3 separate regions of the Homo sapiens genome follow, and regions 2 and 3 are each linked to region 1. The links come from fine-mapping of genetic effects on gene expression. A gene starts in region 1. Each other region holds a variant in brackets. All regions are shown on one strand. Distances are between the middles of the regions.

Region 1 (8,282 bases):
GCCTGCATGTTATGTGGACAAGCTGATAATTTCCTTAGAGCTTAGAATAAGTGTGAGGAGCCCCCATGCCAGTCTCTGGAAGCAGCTCTACAGACCTCACATGGTGATGGGTTAACCTGGAAAAGTGACTACAACAGAGTATGGAAATCAAGAGGTGTTACCTGCCTGCCCTGCCACTTCTGGGCCTCTTCTCACCTTCCAGGAGCTAGGTACAGGAGCTGGTTTCAGATTCATAATATTACAATGGATAATGGTGATTACATTTGTTGTTGTCAAGATTACAAAATCTGATAGTAACTATTTTTGACTACTCATTTTAAATGTACTAAGACAAACACCAACATGATCTAAAGTCAGCCATCTAAATAGTGATTACTCCTTAAAAATCAACTTAATAACCAAATCATTGAATTAACCAAAGTTATAAGACCAAGATGCATCCTTACCAAGTGTCCCAGGAGGTCTCCATATTTAAATTCCCATACTGGGGCTTGTAATCGAAAAACTTCAATGTCATCATCACCCTCCATAACTGGGATAGGTGAGCCAGTTGGACAGAAAGTATACTTAGCTTGACAATAAGGATCAGGTTTTGGACGGAAGTCAAAGCGCCTAATAAAGAAAAAGAAACCATCTACTTAGATTCTAAAATGAATCTGATTCTTCTCACGTCTTTTAGAATCCAGTAACATTTTTAGGGGACCATTCAAAGGTCGGACCATAGTTAATAAATATAAACACACATTTTGTTATCTTGTGAACAAACTTCCAATAATGTTTTTAATAGCAAATGATAAACTAAAAGCACTCTGATAAATACGGGCTTCCCTGTTCCCTGATCCCACTGTGAAAATTTTGAAGACAGGAATTTTGTCTTAAAATTTTTATAGCTCCAGATCATAGTAGACATTTGCAAATGTTTACAGAATAAATGAACATTTTTCCAATGTGTTCAATTTTACAAACAGTCCATACATTAAGATTATTCAGATAATTATGAGTAACAGAATACATTTTATATTTACTTACGAATTAACATTCATTCAACCAATATTTATTGAGGCTCCACTACATATATAGTGAACTATAGTAAGAAGGAGGGAAACAAAAATTAAAACACTGTTCCCTTTCTCATGGAACTGTGGGTGGGAGCTGGAAAGACACTGAACAAGTAATGAGTGTGGTATGTGCTAGACTAAAGGAATGAGTCCTATGGGCACACAGGAAGGACAAATCATTGTTAACCAGGTATGGGATGAATGGGGTGGGGAGGGCAAAGAAAGAGATGAAGGCCGGGCCTAGGTTTTTAATGTAGTTGATTAGAAGGTTAAGACAGAAAGGCAGAGGAAATGTTAAGTATTGTAAGACAAGCCTGGCACATTTGGTCTCCGGTAGGTACGGAAGACTGGATTTCAGGCCTCGACGCAGGAATGGAGACGGAAGAGACTGGCAGGGGCTGTCATTTTGTCACTAGGAGAATGTGCATGGAATTCCCTGCCTTATAATTGGGGAGGGCTAAACTTAAAGGATGTTAAGTAGCAGATCTGACAGGACTGAATTTGCTATAAAGTAAACCTTATTTCACGAATTAAAAGAGGGTATGGAGAGAGGCCAAATAAAACATGAGAGATCAGTTAGAAGGTGACCTCAACAATGCAGGCAAGAAAAGAAGACCGGAGAAGGCCACAGCAATAGGACTCGAGGGGCACTGCAGCTGAATTCAGCTCAACAGACACACTGGTCACCTATAATCTGGCACTGGGAAAGAAAGAAGTGGTGGCGACAACAGCTTCTATCTAAGAATCCTAGATCCCCAAGGTTGTAGCCAGATCTAACAAATCTTAACAAATCAACAAAAATTTCTATTTTAACTTAAGAAGTTAAAATCTTTATGCTAATCGAAACTATTAACGACGCTCCCAAAAGTTTCTGCTACTTGGGTACAGTGTTTTATAGGCACTTACCTGGTTTAAACAAATACATAATCACATGGAGATTTCACTGACACAGCAAAATCTATTTTAGTTCAAAGGTAATTTAAGTGTGAACTTAATAAACTTAAATATTATATTCAATTGAGGGAATTAGATGGGAGCACGTACTTAATATCTGAGACTTAAAAAAAAAATCCACTAAAAAGCCATAGTCAACACCTTGCCCTAATGTTAAATCAAATCGTTTGGATTTACAATTCTTGTTCTATTGAGTAATTTTGACTTCTTACAAACATTTTATTATTAACATTTTCCAGAAAACTAGCTTCAACCACAAACTTCTCTTTCCACGTAGTATATCACACAAAACAAAAAAGTGTTGTAAACATTTCAGTGAGCAGAATACACTATCTAGGTTTGACAACAGCTGGCATTTTACTAGATTTAATCCTTCCAGCAAACCTATGAGGTACGTGCTACCACTATTCCTATTTTTTGACTCAGGGCATGTGGGCACAGAGATTCTGAGTAACTTTCCCAAGATCCCTGGTGATGACAGAGCCAGATTTGACCCGCAGCAGGCAGAACTCCTTCCCACTCATACTGTCATACAAAATAGCTGTTTTTTTCAGGTTTGTTGTGTGCAGTTTTAGCTGTTGATTACTTATGCTAGTAAGTTAAAATTATGTCCAATGATGCTTTTGGTTTAAAGAAAAATAGCTGTTTTCAAAAACTGCTGGTCTTTCTCCTGCCTGATGTTGACACCATGTTTTCTTTCTCTGTGTTTAGCTATCTCTGACCGCCGGAGGCTGTGTCTTCTCTGTCAAAGGCTGGAATCGACCTCCCAGGTGTGCGGGCTCTGTCCCCGACTTAGGACCGGCGTCCTACCTCCAGGCTGAAGACTGGACAAAAGCGGTGACAATCTTCCCGGTCTAACCAGGACTGCAGGAGACGGGGATTCCCGGGATGCGCGACTTTTGAGGGCAAAACTGGGAAGTCCCAATAAGGACTTCGGATCAGGTTCTGATCAGGTTCAAACCAGAGCGAGTTGGTCGCCCAGTAAATTGTACCAAATGTTCCGCGGTAATAACTAACGACAGTGCATGATATAAATAAATGCGATAGACAGTGTTTTTAAACTACTCAAGAAATCAGCTACTTGTACCCAGAAGTCCCTCCATTAAATAACATTACTCTCCTTTTCTTCTTCCACGATTCAGGACTGTCCTGAGTCTGCCGCAAGTGACCAGAGGGGACGAAAGGTCCCAGGGCTGCACGTAACGAGCGGCTGCGACTCCCCAGTCCTCAACTTTGCTCTCAAGTGCGCTCCGAGCGTCACCCGGCGCTGTCCCCGCACCATCTCGTGACCCGACACAAACCACGGTGAGCAGGGGTCCCCGCCCCAGCACCCCATCCCCCATCGTCAACGCCGACCCCAACCCCGACAGTGCGCGCGCCGCCGCACTCACTTGTAGGGCACCGGCCAGTGGCGCCGGGAGGGGATGCCCGAGACCCGGGACCAGCCCGGAACCACCGCGAGCCAAAGCAGCGCCAGGGCCCAGCACCAGGAAGCGCGTCCCCGAGCCGCGCCCGCGCCCCGCCGCATCTCGGCGCCCTGTGCCGTGTCTACCTCCTGCGCCATCAGGCTGCACCCAGTACTTCCGGAGCCTCTCGAGGCCTGCGACGCCGGTGGGAGGAGCATGCGCGGAGCCGCCAGTCCGGGACGCGGGGCGCCTTGCCCCTGCGCGTCAGCTCCAGAGCTTGGCCCCAAGCGCAGGTTCCGGCGCATGACACCTCCCCGCGCCCGGCCCGCGGCGGCTTCCACACTTTGCAGTCCAGGAAGGTGCTTTGGTCTGGCTCCCAGGAGAATTCGATCCAGACCTGGGGCGTCATCTTTTATGAATTGACCTGTCCTTGCCCAAAAGCCACCACCAAAACCAAAAATCTGTCACCGGGGCTCCTCCCAACACCGAACTTTTACCCCATCCCACAGGGCCCACGCTAGGTGTCAACAAACGTTGAGTGAACGAGAATGTGTATTTGGAGCTGAGGGTGCAGGGCTGGGGGTGCAGTGAGGAAGAAGGGACAATAGTGCGGAAATGGCTCGTCGTCACCCGACCTGGGCCAGTCATAACAGTGGTTAACACTGACAATATGTGGTCCCTGCCACTCCCCAAGTGCTTAGTGGGGAAATGACTCGTCCTCACTCGACCTGGGCCAGTGATAACAGTGGTTAACACCGACAATATGTGGTCCCTGCCACTACCCGAGTGCTGCCGAATCTACCCCCTCCCCTACCGCTCCCCTCACAGGCAGGTGTTCCTTGCTTGGATCTGTCACTTCACTGGAAAGAAGTTTCTGCATCACCTTCTCTTCTTTGACTCTTCAACTAGGTCAAGAAAACAATGGCATCAATTACCCGGCTTTTGAGGAGCCTCTTGTGGCATGCTTTGCTGTTAGGCACAAATACTGACTTAAGTCTATACGTAGTACATTCAGGGCCTTGCCATAGTCACTTGTTTTTACCAGACAGCAGTTTTGCAGGGCCTTAGACCGGGACTTTCCAATTCCTTCACTTCACCCACAACTCGTGTGAAGCATCATAATGTTTGTAAGCCTATGGGAATAAGCAAGGTGGCTTCGGTAGCCGGAGATGACCACCACAATCCATTGGAGGATATGTAGCTTGTGGGGGTGTCACTGACTTCCTTGGGCCCTCCAGGTCTCTTGATTACATATGGGACTCAGTACCCTGCCCCAAACACACACTCCTTTGCCCACTTGCTGCTCCAGGTTTGGGGGTTTTGCGGAGGTTCAGGCTGGGCTGCATTTTACCATACGTTTGTCTAAGCGTTTTGATAGCTACCTAGCTCTCCTCCGTATACTATGGCCAAATTCAAAATTACCAAGGCTAAACTGGCTTCTTCAAAGACCTGCCCAAGATAAGAGGGGGAAGCATTCTAGCCCTGAGAGCTGAAATGTAATGTCTGATTTGAAGGGCACCTGAAGGATTCCGTGGCCCCACACTTGAGCCTAGCTTAAAAAGCAATCAGCAGGAACAGCTTTAAAAAAAAAAAAAAACATTGATTAGAGCATTTACAAATCCTGGAACCATACACAGTATGATGTATGAGGGCCACAGTAGATGGCCTCAACAACCAGAGCCTCCGTGGCTGCCTGGAGAGCGGTGATGCAGGCAGCAGCTTCATGAGATATTTGCAGTTTAATCCAGTCATCTGCAAGCACAATCTGCCCATCAGATTGGACTTTCTTGGAGGCAAAGAGAAGCAACTGCAGTGGGGTGACTAAAGTCATGCCTTTAGCAGAGATGGCTCGAGTTCAAATCTTTTCACCAAATACAAAGAAGGGAGATAGGTACTTCATGTCTTGGCTACTAAAAGGACAATTAACAGTAGATGGTTCCAGGTTCCATCTACTGTTAGTAGAGGGCCACAGTAGAACCTCCCATTCAGTTCAGGACTTCCCAGAGCTACAAAAACAAATTCAGGTTGACCTTGTTCAGTGGTGGAGGCCTCTGGTCTTGCTTCTGCCATCTGTCTCTTCATTCTGTGTGCAGGGAGCTTTCATGGTAAGAAAGCACTTCCTAGTATTGGTTTTTATTTTTTATTTTTTTGGAGACGGAGTCTCCTTCTGTCACCCAGCCTGGAGTGCAGTGATGTGATTTCGGCTCACTGCAACCTCCGCCTCCCGGGTTCAAGCAATTCTCCTGCCTCAGCCTCCCTAGTGGCTGGGTACAAGTGTGTGCCAGTTGTAATTTTTTTTTTTTTTTTTGGTAGAGACGAGGTTTCACCATGTTGGCCAGGCTGGTCTCGAACTCCTGACCTCAAGTAATCCACCTGCCTCGGCCTCCAAAAGTGCTGGGATTACAGGCTGTAGTCACCATGCCTGGCCCTAGTATTGGTCTTAACTCAGCCTCCTGGTAGCTCCCATTCTTCTGGTCTGGTTTTGCCTTGGATGGGAACACTGATTAAACCCCATTCTTTTTGTCTATGACCCCACACCCCAAGCTGAAGGTGCTCATAGATTATCGCTGGTCGATACTGGTTGCTTCCCCCTTGTCCATGGCTTTTAAATCTTGAGGGCCCACAGACAGAACTAATTTCAATCTAATTGGTTTCCCTTGGATCCTTGCCCATTCAGCCTAAGACTGCCTGGACCACATGGCATCTCCCCAGATAGAGTGATAGGATTCTGGGGAAGTGTGGAGTTGAGATGAAATTTAAATAAGCAGTATTTTGGTAGACTCAAAGCAAAACAAGGCTGTATGTCAATGATGGTAGTGGCTGCTCCAGACGGCCTGCTGCTGCCATCAACACACAGGCTCTAGGTCTAGACTGCAAAGTGGATGAAGGGCCTATTTCCTTGGAGACTATGAAGTTAAAATAGCGATGGAGTTTTGTGTCTGGAAACCCCTTATCAGAAGCTTGACATCTGGGTTGTAAATTGAGGCCAATTCTCTGTGTGGAATGACTGAGGTCCTTCAAGCAAAGGTGGGATATTTTATTGTTACTGATGTAATTTCAAACACGAAGTTGTCTCTAATCTATGATTTTAGAGAACAAAGTTTCTTAGTGAATAAGAAAGCAGGAAGCCAGGCAAGGTGGCATGTACCTGAAGTTCTAGCTACTCAGGAGGCTTGAACCCAGGACTTTGAGGCTATAGTGAGCTATAATCGTGCCTGTGAATAGCCACTGCACTTCAGCCTGGGTAACATAATGAGATACTGTCTCTAAGAAAAAATTTTTTTTTCGTGTAATACTTTATTTTCCATTGTATTAAATGAAAGCCAGGAAAATATCAAGTTATTTTTAAAGACAAATCTTTACTCCTTAAAGAAAAATACAAACTGTGGTATTTCTAAGATAGATCGTTACATTTTACATAATATAAACAAAATCACTAATGCATCTATATGCTTGGTTTCCTTAAGCTACAGTGAACCACAGAATGGGTTAAAATGCATTTACTTTTTGGTGGGAAATAAACATTGGAAAAAAATGTCACACATAGCATGGCTTTTTTTTTCTTACTGTCTACACACAGGAACTGACATAACCAAGCCTTAACAGATGCCACCTTCTCTTCCTTGTCCAAAGTAGCCAGTTCCATAGGCCCCCCTACCACCTCCTCGCTGGAATCCCCCAGATCATCTGTAGCCTCTACTAGGCCCTCTGTAATCTCCTCCAGAGTTGCCTCTATAGCCACCTCAGGAAACTTCTCTATAGCCTCCACCAACACCTGCACCATATCCTGCCCGACAGGAGCTGGAGCTGCCACCATAGCCTCCGCTACGATAGCCTCCACTGCTATAGCCACTGCCATAGCCTTCACTGCCATAACTAGAACCTCCCCTTCTATATCCGCTTCCATTGTCATATTGGGCCATCTTAGGAGGACCTGGACCATCTCCATACCATGTACTGCCAATCATAAGGTTGATATCAGCAGCTGAGGGTCTAGAGATTTGACGGATCATGTTCAGTATACTTTCATTTACGGGGTCCAACTGGCTGATGATAGCAGGTTGTTTGGTTACTTCAACAACCAGAGCCTCAGTGGCTGCCTGGAGAGCGGTGATGCAGGCAGCAGCTTCATGAGATATTTGCAGTTTAATCCAGTCATCTGCAAGCACAATCTGCCCATCAGATTGGACTTTCTTGGAGGCAAAGAGAAGCAACTGTAGTGGGGTGACTAAAGTCATGCCTTTAGCAGAGATGGCTCGAGTTCGAATCTTTTCACCAAATGCAAAGAAGGGAGATGGGTACTTCATGTCTTGGCTACTAAAAGGACAATTAACAGATGATTTGTGGATAAGTGCATTACACCCTTCAGTGGTGAGAATCTTTGTCTTTTCCTTATGATAGCATACATTGGGGTACACACCAAAGGCCAGGAAGAGAGATAACAACATCCAAATTATTATCTGGTCCAGTGTTAGTAAACACTTGTGTCACCAAACAATCTTCTGGAAACCCAGAATTAATCAGAATCTCTTTGAGCTGAACTTTGACTTCCCAAGTCATTCTTAGTGTAGCCATATGAAGTCTTTTGTGCGCACAAAAACGTATTTCTGCTTCTTCTCCACCCATTCTAGTATCATCTCCGGCTTGGAATACTGATAAAAGGGCTACATGATGAGAAAATCCGTTTCCAGCAAAATTTCAATGGTTGTAGCCCAGCCACTTTCCTTCATTTATAAAAGGCTCTGGAAAGCAGGTAGCAGCAGGAATGGTACAGATAGCATCTCCCACATAGAAAATACACACCATTATCATCATTTTGCCAAAACGAGGCTCAATGAGGAGGTTAGCCAGGATTCGTCCCAAT
Region 2 (8,000 bases), 160 kb before region 1:
CTAGGAATTTCCTATTCTGTGGGTTAAAAGAAGGAACAGTGGGGTACGTGGAGAAAATGATTTCTCCGTAAAGGCCTATCTGAAAGTATCTGCATGTTGAAAAATTTTATGTAATTAAAGTTTTATTTTTAAGAATATATAAATATTCTTTTTTACTTAACAGGTGTGCAAAACCCATTCTGGAATTCTTGGAAAGGGTCTAGCTCTTTCTCATTCACCAACTATATTAGAAGCACTTGAGGGAAATTTACCACTCCAAATCCAAAGCAATGAACAGTCTTTTCTGGATGATTTTATTGCCTGTGTCCCAGGATCAAGTGGTGGAAGGCTTGCAAGGTAAATGTACTTTAAGTTACTTACTTTATTTTAGGGCTTTCATCTTTCTTCATTTCTGAAAGAGGGGAGTCATTAGAATATTAAAATACTACTTTAAAAAAGTCTGGTTTATGTATGTTTAACTTGCTGAAATATAAAATGATAGTTAATATTTTTGTTTGGCGGTTGTTTGTTTGTTTGTTTTTGAGAGAGAGGGTCTCACTGTGTTGCCCAGGCTGGAGTGCAGTGGCATGATCTCAGCTCACTGCAACCTCCACTTCCTGGACTCAAGCGATTCTTGTGCCTCAGCCTCCCAGGTAGCTGGGATTACAGATATGCCACCACACCCGGCTATTTTTCTTTTTTGTATTTTTTGTAGAAACAGAGTTTCCCCATGTTGCCCAGGCTGGAATAGTTATGATAGTATATGATAAGACCAGGTGCAATGGCTCATGCCTGTAATCCCAGCACTTTAGGAGGCTGAGGTAAGTGGATTGCTAGAGCATAGGAGTTGAAGACAAGTCTGGCCAACATGGTGAAATCCTGTGTCTACAAAAAATACAAAAATTAGCCAGGCATGGTGGCACACTCCTGTAGTCCCAGCTACTTGGAGGCTGAGGTGGAAGGATTGCTCAAACCCTGGAGGCAGAGGTTGCTTTGATTGTGCCAGTGCAATCCATGGTGAAACCCTGTCTCTGCAAAAAATACAAAAATTAGCCAAGCATGGTGGCACACACCTGTAGTCCCAGCTTCTTGGAGGCTGAGGTGGGAGGATTGCTCAAACCCTAGAGGCGGAGGTTGCTGTGATTGTGCCACTGCAACCAGCTTGGGCAACAGAGCAAGACCCTATCTCAAAAAAAAATTAACTAATTAAATTAAATTTATTATAGTTGTTAATTGATTATTTTTGTTGCTTTTTGTTTTTAGGATGAAAAGGGAAAAAAATATGCTGGCCTGCATGATTTTACTAGTAAAAAAAAAATCCCAACTTTTTTCTGGTTTTAATTTTAAAATTGCAGAGATTACTCTTTAGTTTTTAAAAATCACAAAATAGTGATTGGAGAGGAATGTCAAATCACTTAAGTCAGCCTCACTACTATACTATGCAGACGTTTTTATGTAATGCATGGTAGAATTACTTATTACTCAGCTCACAGGACAACTTGAATGTGTAGATCACAGAATGAATTCAGGAATGAACATCACAAATTACACAACATTGATGCATTTTAGGTGGAAAGCAAGGTAATGAGGAAGATAGTTGAGAAACTGTGAAAAAAAGATGGGCAGTACACCTTGAACCTGGCTGCTGTCAGGCAAGTAGAGGGCCATTTCTACCCCTGCTTTTACAGAGACACTGCTTTTTCCAGGCTTGCAGGATGGCAGAGTAAGGTGGAGCTCCTTCAGAGAGAATGAGCCTGCTCAGGACTTCAAATTATGCACAACCTACATTCGTGTTCTTGGTGATTTTAAATTAGCCATAGTTAAAATTTCAAGTTTCCTGGTTTTAAAAAGTATTTTTATACTGTATTTAAATATCAGAAATCTCCTGTGCTTAGGCATGTTTTTTAAATGAATTTGTCCTTAACAGTTTCTGAGGGAGACACTCATGATTATCACTGAGTTGGAAATGAAGATAATGTTTTAGCATTTTGTTTGATACAAGTTTTGTTCATTTGGCTTAATTTTATATTAATTGTTGAAGATGCTGATCAGTGTTTGGGGTTTTGTTTATTTGTTTTTCATTACTGTTAGGTGGCTTCAGCCAGATTCATATGCGGATCCTCAGAAAACATCTTTGATCCTGAATAAGGATGATATTCGTTGTGGTTGGCCTACCACCATAACTGTTCAAACAAAAGACCAGTATGGGGATGTGGTACATGTTCCCAATATGAAGGTAATTATAACTGGATTAAATTAGCAGACATCTATATACTGGCTGCAATGACTGATAAAATTTTAGAAATGCCAAGTGCTGAGAGTCCATTTGTTCTACCCTCTTTATATAAAGGGTGATGCTGAAAGTTTGTTTAAATGACTTGTTTATATTAATTAGTCCCCAAGTGTCCAAGTTACACCTGTTTTTTTTGTGAGTTTGTTCTTTACATTTTGCTACCTGTTACGGGGACTCAAAGGAGGGATAAGAAAGTATCCATCTAAAGAGTGCTAGACACATACAGTGAAGCCCCTCAATATGTATTGATTGAATAAATGCATGAAAGAATACATTTTTAAATTTTGTGTATAGTTTTGAAAGACTCAAGTACGTTCTGTGTTTGGTATTACTGAAACCACATTTTAAAAATAACACTCATTAAGTTAGAAATATATGAGTTTAGATTGTAAAAGAATGAGGAATTGAAATAGTTGTATACCATATTGATGAATATAGAGTTTTTAGGATACCTCTTACCTGAAATATTAATAATAATGTTTCAGAGCATATTATACATAATTATTTGTGATTTAATCTGTTAATATGAATATCTCATTTAAAACTTTTATTTCTGAAAAAATTATATTGAATAAAATTTTATATAGGCAGTCCCCAGCCCTTTCCTCCTTCAAAGTTGTCTTATAGAGTGATTGGTTGTTTGAAGCTTAGAGCTGATTAAGCCACAAAATCCTTTTTGCTCATTGGGTAGCTAATTTTGCCTCAATATTATTTTCAGTAGAACTATTTCAACTACTTCATGCATTCTTTCATTTATAGCGTGAAGAAGTACAATGCCAATGTAGCATCTTACCTAAGTAAAAAATAAGAACACATTGCTTACATGACTTAAGACCAGTAAATA[A/G]AACTGTATGGAAAAGGTTTCAACCCTGATACTAAATCAAAATCAGTCTTTTAGCAGTATCTTTCAAATATTTGGCCATGATCCATAGTCAGAATTTTTATTATAACCCAAAGATATAAATATAATATATGATGGAATAGTGTCTATGTAATAGCATATGTTAAGTACATATAATATACTTTATATATACATACACACATACATACATAATATGCTATACTCTGATGCTTTCTCTATCTTATTTTTTAAGGCAAGTCATACCCTTCACAAACTGAGTTCATGCCTACTTGGAATTATTCTATACAATGCAAAAAGCATCACAAATTATAAGAAAAAAAGATTTAAAAATAAAGTTATCCTGATAGTGATATGAAAAAAATTACTACTCAAGGACAGATTTTTGATCACAGTACAATACACGTTAAGATGTTGAAGGGCTTGTATATTGTGTATTCACTGATGAATTTCTCAATGTAGTGAGTTGTTAAATCCAATCTTTGAACCCTCAAGATTAAGTTTTTTATTCATGTGACAACATTCTAATACCATGTTCATACTGTTACGCTTCTGATATTTCTTTAGTTGTATTTTCTTTCTTGTGTTTTCTCCTTTGCACCTTTTATTATCTCTTTTGATATCTGGTATGTTTATATCTTGCATTTGAAAGTCAGACTTCATCTTTTTTTCTTTTCATCTTAGAGTTCTTTTTTTAACCATATGATGGATCTGCTTTTTTTTTTCCTCTCTTCTTCCCTCTCCTCTTTCCCTTTCACCTCCTTCTCCTTTTTCCTTCTTTTCTTCCTCTTCTTTCTCCTCCATATATTTGCTTCTCCTACTATCTTTCCTTGACTTAAACCTCTTACTCAGTGTGCTCTAAATTCATGTCAGATTTATCCAATTTAGAAACTTTCTAGAAAACCACTCTAAATACTATCTAGAAGAAGTGATTTGTGCTCCTACTGATGTTTAATGTATTAATATCATATTATATTAGCTGGAAACAAAATTAATTTAACCTATTTTACTTTCAGCCTATTAGTATATGAAGTCTTAGGAGCACTTTAGACTGTTCATAAATTGTTAAAATCTTTATGCAGTAATAGCTAATTATTTGAAGCATAAAAGTTGATTTGCAGCTAATATTTCAATGAGTTCCAAAATGCTTTCAAAAGCAACAAGTGTTATTGTTATAATTTTTTACTTATAAAATGACTGTTCCCTACCTGTGATAAAATGAGTTAGAACTAAACACACATATTGTACCAATGTCAATTTCCTGGTTTTGGTTCAGTACCATCAGTGTCTGACAGTGTTGGATAAAATGTAGCCATTGGGGGAACCTGAGTGAAGGGTACATAGGACATTTCATCTATTTTTGAAACTTCCTGTGAATTAAAAAAAAAAGTTTATTTTAAGGAAATCTTATTTATTGACAAGAGAAAGTCACATAGGAAATACAAGAATAACTTTTTTTTTAAGTAACACAGTTTGTAAAAGAAAGCAGAATGGTTATTCTATAATGTCTCAGTTTTCTTAAAGTATAAAATTATTCAGTGATTTACTTCAAGGTTCATGGTGCATACACACATAGACTCTAATGATAATTTATTAAATACTTAGGGTAAATATAGTTGCTTACAGAAAGGTTAAATTGAAATAGTATGTATAAAAATAGTGTCTGTAATTTAATATCAAATATGTTTGAGACAGGAGAGTTCCCTTGACCCCTTTGTGGGACTTGGGACGTGGGTGTCGTGTGGCTCATTTACTTGACTGCTGCACTCAAACCCCTTGCAGGATGGCGAGCACTGAGGCAAGCAGGTGCCAGGGCCCAGGCAAGCACCTCTGGGCTCCAGCCCCACAGCAGCATCTAGGAGTGTGTCACAATTAATGCTTTTTTAGCTTTGTTGTCTGTGGATGGCTAAGTGTTAAACAGCTCAGTGAAGAATCAGCATGACAGCCTTTTTGGGTTCCTGCACCCAGTGTGTCCTGAATTCTTGTCTGGCATTCAGGAAGAATCAGGTCATATGAATGGTTTGAAACGCGATGAATGCGTGAATACAGCAGATTTTTTTTTTTTTTTTTTTTTTTTGAGACAGAGTCTCGCTCTGTCGCCCAGGCTGGAGTACAGTGGCACGATTTCAGCTCACTGCAAGCTCCGCTTCCTGGGTTCACTCCATTCTCCTGCCTCAGCCTCCCGAGTAGCTGAGACTACAGGCACCCGCCACCACGCCTGGCTAATTTTTTGTATTTTTAGTAGAGACGGGGTTTCACCGTGTTAGCCAGGATGGTCTCGATCTCCTGACCTTGTGATTCGCCCGCCTCAGACTCCAAAAGTGCTGGGATTACAGGCGTGAGCCACCGCGCCCAGCCACGGCGGATTTTATCAAACGGTGGAAGTGGCTCTCAGCAGAAGGGGAGCTAGAAAGGGCATGGTGTGAGAAGAAGGTGATATTTCCCTGAAGCCCAGCCGTCTCCAGCCATGCTCCTCTCCTAAGTGGTGCCATCTGAGGTTAAGCCGCGCGTCTCATCAGTTGCTGCTTCTCCTCTTGGTATTCGCCACTTGTCTCTTTGCTAGCTGAAGTCTGGGATTTATAGGGGCATAGGGTAGGGGGGCAGGGCTGGCCAAAAAGGCAACATTTAGGCGGAATACAAGGATAAACTGTTCTCATTTAGGGTCATGGTTTCCAGGCTTGAGAGTGGGGCCTTTGCCAGGGAACCACCTTCTCCTATCCAGTATATCCCTGACTCCTGTCTGTATCATCTTCAGATTTTTTAATTGTTTAAAGTTTAAAGCTTTTTATGCTGGCACATGTGTTTGAGTTGAAATTTTAACCATATACCTGTAAACTGCCATTTTTTAAATATAAGAATGGGTTTTTAATATTTCCAGGGGTTTGTGTCAGTCCAAATACTGATCTCTTGTAACCTCACCTGAAGATAGTGGTCACTTAATGGAACATATTTGTCACCTGTGCCTAACATTATATAAATAGCGAAAGTCTCAAACTACTGATTCCATAGAATCGCGTTGTTAAGAACAATAAACATAAAGACAGTCTGTAGTTCTGAGGTAGCTCTCAATTACTTAAAAATACTATCACTTTTATCTCTGCACTTTTTCTATTTCTGTGACAATTCTGTTGAATTACCTGTTCTTGCCAACCACAAAACTATTGTCTGTAGGGAGCAGCAGAAACTTTGAGTAAAGCTCAGAATGGTGATACCTGCTGAAGAACTAAAGTGGTATTCAAATTGTGTGTACATTTGTGGTTGCCTAGGGGTCAAGTGTTTTTCTGCCAATGCATAAACAAATAAAAACAATGTTTTCTTATAATTTCTGGGAAATATTTCTAAAAAGTATTTTTCAGAAATAGTAGTTAGTAGATGAAATAGTAGAGTTAGTAGATCAAAGATAGTCCCGTTTTGTTGAAGAAATTGAGTTGCAAAGTTATAATTCCTGGAAAATATATCTAAAAGGTATTTTTATAAGACAATTTGTATTTTCAGTATATTAACATCCATTAACGAATCTGTTTTTTGCATCTATACTGTAGAGTTAGTGGACGAAAGATAGTCCCATTTTATTCTTAAAGAAAGTGAGTTGCAAAGTTTAATTATTTAATAGATTGCTTAAATCAAATGTTGATGTTGGTGATAGGGCTGTCTAATAATATTCTTTCTTCACCCGAGTAAAGAAACATATTTGGGCTTTAGGTATAAGATTTGTTTTATTAAGTGTTAATTTTTGAAACTTCTATAAATAGAGTACATTTTCTTCTGTAGAACAGTGCAGCTCAAACTGACATTAGTGCTTTAAAATGTGCTGAGATTGTGGGAAAGCATTTACACTTGCATTACCTGATAAAATAATTTGTTAGTCCCTGCAATAACTTAATGTAGATTCATTCCACTATCTTTTCCTGTACTTTATTAGTGGTGCATTTGTTTTTATGTTTTGATATCTCTGATTATGTATTCCAAAACTATGAGGCCTTGTTTTTACACCGTGTTCATGGTTCATATTGTCAACCCATCTTGAGGTCATTTGAACTCTTTTCAATAAGCCTTTGAAGGGAATGCCAGAGACAGACCAATGCTAACATAAAGTATACATAATTATGAGTTTATAATAGTAAGTTGCTTATTTTGATGTCAGTGACAATTAAATAATAATGGTATTTGGTTTCTATAATACCATGTTTAGGTGGAAGTGAAAGCTGTCCCTGTTTCTCAGAAAAAAATGTCTTTACAACAAGATCAAGCAAAGAAACCTCAAAGGATTCCTGGCAGTCCTGCAGTAACAGCTGCATCTTCTAATACTGACATGACTTATGGAGGGCTGGCATCACCAAAGCTAGATGTTTCATATGAACCAATGATAGTGAAGGAAGCTCGATATATTGCCATAACAATGATGAAGGTAATTTATTTTACTTATCAGAAAAATTTTAGTTTTCAGCATTTGTTTATTTAACCAACATTTCAGTGATTCAGATGCAGACATGAAATTGTAAGTCCAAAGAGCATTTGATGGATATTAAATTTGCAGCAACACTTATTAAGATGATGTTATCCTGTCTTCAGAGAGGATTTTCATTGGTTTTTGGCAGATGTCCAGAGGGGATCACCAATTACAGATCAAGTTAATCGAATCAGAGATACAGATGGATTAGGCTGAGTTTCAGTTCCTGTGAAAGTACTTGTCTACTTCTGACCAGGAACAGTGGCCCACACCTATAATCCCAGGGCTTTGGGAGGCCAAGGAGGGAACATCACTTGAGGCCAAGAGTTCGAGACCAGCCTCAGTAATGTAGTGAGACCCCATCTCTACAAAAAAATAAAAATAAAATAAAATTTCTAAGTACTTGTCTATTTGCAGTT
Region 3 (8,282 bases), 66 kb before region 1:
TCCCTGTTCTTTAATGAAATAATAGGTCTTCAAAGAAGAAGAAGAAGCTATAAAGGTTGACCTTCATGAAGGTTGTGGTAGAACCAAATTGTTCTGGTTGATGGCACTGGCAGATTCTAAAACAATGAAGGCAATGGTGGAATTCCGAGAACACACAGGTAAAAGGTTTAAAGATTGAGCCATGCCTTTAAAACCCACAAAAAAAGATTAAACCGTGCCAACTGATTAAACTGTGAATAATTTTGAGTGATATTCTGATGTTTAATTATGACATCATTGATCTATATATTTACTAAATATATAGAGTGTTCTATGGTGAAGAGAGCATTAGACCAAAAGTCAAGAAACCTGATTTGCCACTAACTAGCTGTGTGGTGTCGAGCAAGTCACTTAACCTCTGGAACTCATTGACTTCATTTATAAAGTGAGAGGATCACAACTAATGGGGCTCCATAGATAAAATACATTTCTATTGATAATTCCCTTCTAGTTCTGCTAGTTGTTGCCCCACAATAAAAATTGCTGCACTAGATGATCACTAAGATCTCTATTTATTATAAGGTTGTATGATTTTATGATATTTAGAGGTTTTTGTAGACCTAATGCTTCTGAAGGTGTTGTGAATGGTACTGTTTCCATTGATAGCAATAAAATAATTAACAAAAATGAATAGACATAAAACAAAAGGTAACCTATGTATGTTAAATGTATTTTTATCTCTAAAACATAGTTTTCATTTTGCTGCTTTTCTAAAGTAAATCTTGTATATTCCTAGTTCAAAGTTATGTTGAATCTTACAAATTCTCAGTTTTCAGCACATCTGCAGTCTGCCATTTGACTGACACGAACTTCCAGTGTTGGAGTTAGGTGTAAATCCGAATCAATTTAATTCTAGGGTGACTTTGCATGCTGCAAGAGCATGACCTTCTTTTCTCATAGTTGATTTCTTCCTCCTATAATCTGTCAGTGCTGTATACTGCATTAATAAATGTTCTAATGTCAAACCATCCTTGTAAACCATCCTTTTTAAATAGATTTTTCTGTAAATATTGCTGAATTCAATATATTGATATTAATTATAGTTAGATTTTTATATCTGTGTTTAAAAATCAGCTTGGTCTGTAATTTTCAAATCTTCACGTTCTTTTTCTTATTGCTCTGTTCTTGTTTTATTGATTCTGTTTCTTCTTTAAGTATTTCAAACATATTTAAATTCCTTTTCAAATTGCAGAGTTCCTGAGGTAGGAATTCTGTTTTTCAAGTTTCATACTCTGATGATAGGCTTTATACCATGCCTTATAATTTTGTTATATATAGTTAAAGATTTCCCTAACTTCTGTGTATTTTTATTTAATTTTTGGTTATCATATTTTTTATGGTATTGTGCATTTGGAGTCAGGGGCTTGTAACAGCTGCTCAGTCTGGTAACTTGACTAGAAGTCTAGTCTGTTTCTTTCACTGAAAAAAAATATTAGTCGAGAGTGTATTTGGCTTCAGATAGGTCTTTAATTTCTTTTTTTGTGTGTCATTATTTACTTTATAATTAGGACAACTTAGAAACCTTCCGTTCTAAAACTGTCAGGCTGATTTCCCAAGGATAGCAACTTATACAAACCTAGTTTGCTTTTTAAAATTTAGTTCTGTTAACATATCTAGAAAACATCCATAAGAAGGATTTTTATTTTTCTGCTTGAACCTAGGCAAACCCACCACGAGTAGCTCAGAAGCATGTCGCTTCTGTGGTTCCAGGAGTGGAACAGAGTTATCTGCTGTTGGCAGTGTTTGTTCTGATGCAGATTGCCAGGTGAGTATATAGTGACACAGGCCATCCCATTGTCCATGTTCCCCTGTGACACCTTTACTTCATACAGAAAAGAGTTTTAGCTCAGCGTCACTCCAGCTTCCTAAATGAGTGTATTACCTATGTGAAGCATCAAATGCCTTACCAAAGTTGAAGAATGGGTCAAATAAGGCTCTCAAGCCCAAACCACACTCTTTTTGTATGTTTCTCAGTTACCATGATCATATGTATTTAATATCTACTTTTGTACTAGAAACAGTTAAAAATTTATGAACTGTATTTCCTTTATCTCTTACAGACATTATTCACTTATTTCCTTAAAATACATTTTCAACATCTAAGAGTTCTTTAATCCTGAACATATATAAACATATTCTATGTTGTCCAAATGTTTTTGGTTTCTCAATTAATAAGAATGTGGATATGCTCAGAGAGTCAAAGGTACCTTTTTAAAAAAAAAAAAAATCTGCATTTTGGTGATGCGGAGAGTGGTGACTGGGAAATTATACATTGGGGAACTTTTTTTATTTTTTATTTTTTTGAGACGGAGTCTGGCTGTGTCGCCCAGGCTGGAGTACAGTGGCACGATCTCGGCTCACTGCAACCTCCGCCTCCCGGGTTCAAGCGATTCTCCTGCCTCAGCTTCCTAAGTAGCTGGGATTACAGGCGCGCGCCACCATGCCTGGTTAATTTTTGTATTTTTAGTAGAGATGGGGTTTCACCATATTGGTCAGGCTGGTCTCAAACTCCTGATCTCGTGATCTGCCCACCTCAGCCTCCCAAAGTGCTGGGATTACAGGTGTAAGCCACGACTCCCAGCCAGGAACTTTTTGCTTTATAGCTGTGCATGATGACAAATATGAAATTATAATTCACTTATCAGCATTCCCTTTATAGAGAGTGGCATTTTTTAAAAATCGCATCAAAAAAAAAAAACTTTGTTAAGAAGCCTAATTTATATTCAAACAAAGATTAGAAATAACTTTACTTTGTTGTTACTTGGCCTGCATAGATACTTCCTGTGGGAAAGTAATCTTTGGAAATTTATATAATAAGGAAAATTACCAGAATGTGTGCTTTTTTACATACTTGTGTAACATTGTAATTCATCTTTAACAGGAATACGCTAAGATAGCCTGTAGTAAGACGCATCCTTGTGGCCATCCATGCGGGGGTGTTAAAAACGAAGAGCACTGTCTGCCCTGTCTACACGGCTGTGACAAAAGTGCCACAAGCCTGAAGCAAGACGCCGATGACATGTGCATGATATGTTTCACCGAAGCGCTCTCGGCAGCACCAGCCATTCAGGTTGCCTCAGCTTTTAAAGTATTGAATGTATCCAGACATTAAGATGGGGAATATATTTGTCAAATAAACATTGATTGAGGCCGGGCGCAGTGGCTCATGCCTGTAATCCCAGCACTTTGGGAGGCCGAGGCAGGTGGATCACGAGGTCAGGAGATCGAGACCATCCTGGCTAACACAGTGAGACCCCGTCTCTACTACAAAAATACAAAAAAATTAGCTGGGCGTGGTGGTGGGTGCCTGTAGTCCCAGCTACTCAGGAGGCTGAGTCAGGAGAATGGCATGAAGCCAGGAGACGGAGCTTGCAGTGATCTGAGATGGCACCACTGCACTGCAGCCTGGTGACAGAGCGAGACTCTGTCTCAAAAAAAAAAAAAAAAAAAAAAGCAGTTGATTGAAATCTTTTTTTATATCACTAGGCAGAAGTGTTCTTTTAATCTATACATGTACCAGGCTAATGAGGAGCAAATTCTGCCTCTTTATGCTGTGCTTTCTATGTTGCATGCTCAGCTTTAATTTGTGATTTGTGTGAACCTCTGTAATCAACAGAATGTATAAAATATTCAGAAGCCAGGGGGAAATAATTAGATTATCCCCCAGTAGCTAAGGCTCTTCTTAATTTCCAAAATCCAGAATGGTATTTTTACAACATTATATAATTGATCTATACATAATGATACATACTTCTATACATACACAAGTTACTGTGCACTAAATAGGTTTTTTTAACTTTTGCCCATTGCTTATATTTTCAGTTCTCATGATTCCAAGATAATAATAGTCTCCAAAAGAAAATCATAAGTCAGTAATTTCTTCTTCTTTCTGTGAGATACAAAATTGAATAATTTTACTTTTTTTCCTAACCTAGCTTACTTTATATAAGTGGCATGAATGTTAAAAAGCAGGAGAAGCCAAAGGCCTAGTTAATAGTATCCCAATTTACTGTAATGAAATTTAGTAAATAATAATGTCCCAATTTCAGTGTCCCAATGAATTTTCATTATAGTAAATTTCTTGATTTTTCTCTTACCTGCTTTAAGTAGTGCCTTGCATTAAATAATCTCCCAGTCACTCAACTGTTTATCATTATTATATTTGCTTATGTCCTTTTCTTTTGTTTATTTAAGCTGGATTGTAGTCACATATTCCACTTACAGTGCTGTCGGCGAGTATTAGAAAATCGATGGCTTGGCCCAAGGATAACATTTGGATTTATATCTTGTCCCATTTGCAAGGTATGGAAAGAATCTGAAATCATGTACTTTCTTTTTCTTTTGTTCTTTCTTTTCACCTTTCAAAATAAACATATGTCAGTATCTCTTGGTTTTACCCACCAGCCCCTAGCAGTTTCTTCCCTTCTC[A/C]TTCATGTGGAACCTGAGAATATAATCTCTCTGTTATAATGCATCTCAAAACAGTAATTGTCCATTTAAAACTGATTACATTCTGTTAAACATATTACATGAGAAAGTTCATTTAAACATCGTGATGCATTAAAGGGCATGCATCTCTACTCTCAGACCACTAGAGAGCTCAGTTGACATAACATGACAACGGCTACCAAAAAGAAGAATGATCCTCTGGTGTTTGTAGAAACTGATACCTGCCATTAAAGAGTGAAATTGGAACCCTCAGTACCACTAGAACAGATTCTTTTAGAGCTTAGTTAAAACAAGGAGAAAGTTCTTGGCATTTTGACACATTTGTACAAAGGTAGTCAGCAAGTAGGAAGTTGTTTTGGCAAGCTAATAATGATTAACAAAAAGCTGTTTTTGAAGAATGTGGCAGTACTTTCCCTATTAATTCATCGCCCCTTTTTGTTCTATTAAGCTCTCCCTATTTTCTTATCTTCGTATTTGCAAACTAATATAAAGGGTAGAATGTGGAAAGACTTAGCACAATCATTGTCTAGATAGACTGAGGAATAATCAAAAAGATTGTAGTATTTTGCTCTCCCCTATCATATGGTGCTACAAATATTAATAGATACATGAAAGTTTTACAGCAAATACTACCTGTTCACTTCTGTCACCTGGCGTTCTGCCTTCCCCTCAAGGAAGCAAAACACACACACACACACACACACACACACACACACACACACACACACACACACACACACACCAAACACAGAGCGTGTCTTATTTGTGGCAACAAGGTAACTTTGTTTCCACAATAGCTAGGGCAACAGGAGATATATTTCAGACGCAGGAAATATAAAGCTAATAAAATGGAATTTTCATGCTCTGTGTCCCATTTGCCCCATTTTCCCTGCTCTTGGAAAAATATGGGCTTCTAAAGAATTTACAGAATGTTTTTCAAATGACATTTTATTTAGAATATGTGTGCTGTCTGGTTATCTTCTAGCACAATGCTTGGCACTTAGGTGCATGCTAAGTGTTTGTTGAGTTGGTTAATAAATGATTCTGCTAAAGAGTGTTCATTTTTTATTGCAGAACAAAATTAATCACATAGTACTAAAAGACCTACTTGATCCAATAAAAGAACTCTATGAGGATGTCAGAAGAAAAGCCTTAATGAGATTGGAATATGAAGGTCTGCATAAGAGTGAAGCTATCACAACTCCTGGTGTGAGGTTTTATAATGACCCAGCTGGCTATGCAATGAATAGATATGCATATTATGTGTGCTACAAATGCAGAAAGGTATGCTATAAATTATACTGAGAAGTTTTAAAAACTAGAGCTTACCTATATGATTAAGAATTCAAATTGTACAGTGATATCTAATTATTCCATCTTAAGCCTGAAGTTAAAAATAAGATAGCTTGGTACAATGTTTCCCAATGTTTCCAGTAAAACTTGTTTACTTAACTTGTTTGGGGATTCTTTATTTAACCTGAACAAACTTTTCGAAACATGCAGTATTTCTGTATACAAGCTGCTTCCCATCAGTAATAACCTGTTGGCCCAGGGCAATTCCTTCTCGAATAAACTTCTCTCACTTGACTCTGCTAACCATTCCTTCCTTAAAACCCTTAATTCCTTGGCTTCCAGGACAACACACTCTTTTTCTGTCCTCCTTCCTTTCTAGTCATTTATCTTTAACTACTTCTTCTTTTTTTTTTTTTAACCTACCCCTTACATATTTGTTTTCCTAGAGCTCCATTCTTGCCTACTTAATAAATACTTCCTTACCTTGGGTGACCTCTTTTACATCTATACCTTCACCTACCATGTATATGTTTATGACCCCCCAAAATTTTTGAGATTTAGTTACAAATAACCAACTGCGTACCAGACATTTGGATCTCTCACACATACTTCAGAGTTCACATGTCAGGTATTATATTCATCAATCTTGGCCGGGCACAGTGGCTCACACCTGTAATCCCAGCACTTTGGGAGGCCAAGGTGGGCAGATTTCTTGAGCTCTGGAGTTTGAGACCACCCAGGGCAAGATGGCAAAACCCCATCTCTACAAGAAATACAAAAATTAGACAGGTAGGTTGGCATCTGCCTGTAGTCCCAGCTACTTGGGGGACTGAGGCAGGGGAATCGCTTGAGTCCAGGGGGTTGAGGCTGCAATGAGCTGTGTTTGTGCCACTGCAGTCCAGCCTGGGTGACATAGTGAGACCCTGTCTCAAAAAAAAAAAAAAAGACTTTACCAATCTCTGATCTTTATTGACAAAATCCTATCAATTCTGTCTCCAGATCTCTCTTGAGTCCTTTTTTCTTTCCATTACATCTCCAGCAAACCTAATCATTTTCCTTGGTAATTACAGTAGCCTTCTTCCTGAGCTCGGGTGTAGAACCCCTAATTCCTCTGTTGCATCCCTTACACTGCTGCTAATTAATACTTCTAGATCTAAAATCTAACTGGATCACTCTTCTACTTATAATACGGTAGCCCAGTCTCCCTCTCCAGTCTCATCTCCCAAGATGCTACCATTTGCTCTCCATTTGCTGCCACATACCAAATAACTTGCATTTCCCAAACTCAGCCCTGTCTGCTCACCCACTGACACCCCCATGCCATTGCACAGGCCATTGGTGTTTAAAGGATGCTCTTCTCTACCTCCCCCTGCATATTTTACTCTGACCTGCCACCCCCAACCCCATACACACATGCTGTCATGCAGAGCCTAATCTGTCTTGTCATACCTCGGGCTTCAGCTCAGGTTTCACCTCCTCTGTAACATACCCCCATCTCACTTCCATCAACACCACCACCACATGATTTTGGTATCTTGCAGGCATCTAGCATAGAACTCCCTATTCTGCATTATGACTACTGGACCACTTATCTCTCTGCCCTACTTGATAAGTTCCATGAGGACAAAGAGTATGTTTTTTCATTTTTCTATCTCTAGTACTTTGCACTTACTAGATACAAAGTTAAGTGGAGAATGAATAAATGAGTGAAAGAATGACTACATGAGAAAGGTGCATAGTCTCCCAATGTAGCAAAAAGAAAATACAGAGGATGAATGGATGTCTAAGTAGAGAGATGATAGCCAGAAAGGCAGATAAATACATGCACACCCAATAGTGCACATTTATGAAGCTTGTATTGTTACAAATAATAAAATAGTATTTCTGTGTGTTTCATGTACTAAACATTATAAATGAATATTGTGCTATTACAGGGTAGCAGTCAAATGCTTAGGAAGCCAAGCAGAGGATATAGAAAAGTGAAACAGCTGGAGTAAGCAGTCCCCAAGACAAACCGAAATACTTCCAGGGTTAGGTTTAGCTGGTGAACGACCGTTTATAACCTCTGCATCAATGGATCCTGTCTTTGGACCTGTTTTTCTAGTATAGATAATAGATTTATATTGACTCAGTTTGTTTATTCCCAATCCGGACATAGCTTTTTGACTATGAGACAATCAGTGCATGCAAATTGTCCCAGTTCCTTGGCCTCACTTAATCTCTGCCCAGGGCAAATACAGATAAATCACCCATCATGATATTTTTATTTATTCATGATAATTTTATTTATTCAAATTCTATTTATGCAAGTGTCTGTATTGGAAACTGTTGAGTTCCTGCCTACTGCATAACTTTATAACTATGAGCAGAATTCTGAACAGAATTATCAAATTTGCCTTTTTTTTTTTTTTGAGACGGGGTCTCACCATATCACCCAGGCTGGAGTGCAGTGGCATGATCTCAGCTTACTGCAGCCTCCACCTCCTGGGCTCAAACAAGCCTCC

Alleles and levels. Alleles are on the strand shown, and positions count from the first base shown. SD is a standard deviation of normalised expression in the study named. Not every link is listed here.
In carriers of allele C in region 3, the expression in monocytes of the gene that starts at base 3,594 in region 1 tends to be lower than with A alone (moderate effect, 0.52 SD a copy in Fairfax 2014).

The links. PIP is the estimated chance that this variant, and not a neighbour inherited with it, causes the effect.
Region 2: its variant is the best candidate, but not a certain one, in a credible set for the expression of CLN5 in blood mononuclear cells (TOPMed, PIP 0.65).
Region 3: its variant is the best candidate, but not a certain one, in a credible set for the expression of CLN5 in monocytes (Fairfax 2014, PIP 0.55).

Annotation. Positions count from the first base shown.
Region 1 is chr13:76,987,393-76,995,674 of GRCh38, reverse strand. It overlaps CLN5 (CLN5 lysosomal BMP synthase), which reads right to left and starts at 3,594. Exons shown (of 4, transcript NM_006493.4): 1 at 3,404-3,594; 2 at 447-612. The coding sequence starts at 3,576. It also overlaps the pseudogene DHX9P1. RefSeq lists an enhancer at 2,090-3,289 and silencers at 3,311-3,550, 4,011-4,080, 4,171-4,260.
Region 2 is chr13:77,150,273-77,158,272 of GRCh38, reverse strand. MYCBP2 (MYC binding protein 2) reads left to right here. Exons shown (of 83, transcript NM_015057.5): 45 at 164-336; 46 at 2,071-2,215; 47 at 7,324-7,539. Among named protein-coding and RNA genes, the nearest start is that of MYCBP2-AS2, 73 kb to the right of the region's middle. The variant A/G (reference allele first, on the strand shown) is at 3,117.
Region 3 is chr13:77,053,045-77,061,326 of GRCh38, reverse strand. MYCBP2 (MYC binding protein 2) reads left to right here. Exons shown (of 83, transcript NM_015057.5): 76 at 26-158; 77 at 1,701-1,804; 78 at 2,921-3,109; 79 at 4,234-4,341; 80 at 5,560-5,769. Among named protein-coding and RNA genes, the nearest start is that of MYCBP2-AS1, 18 kb to the left of the region's middle. The variant A/C (reference allele first, on the strand shown) is at 4,468.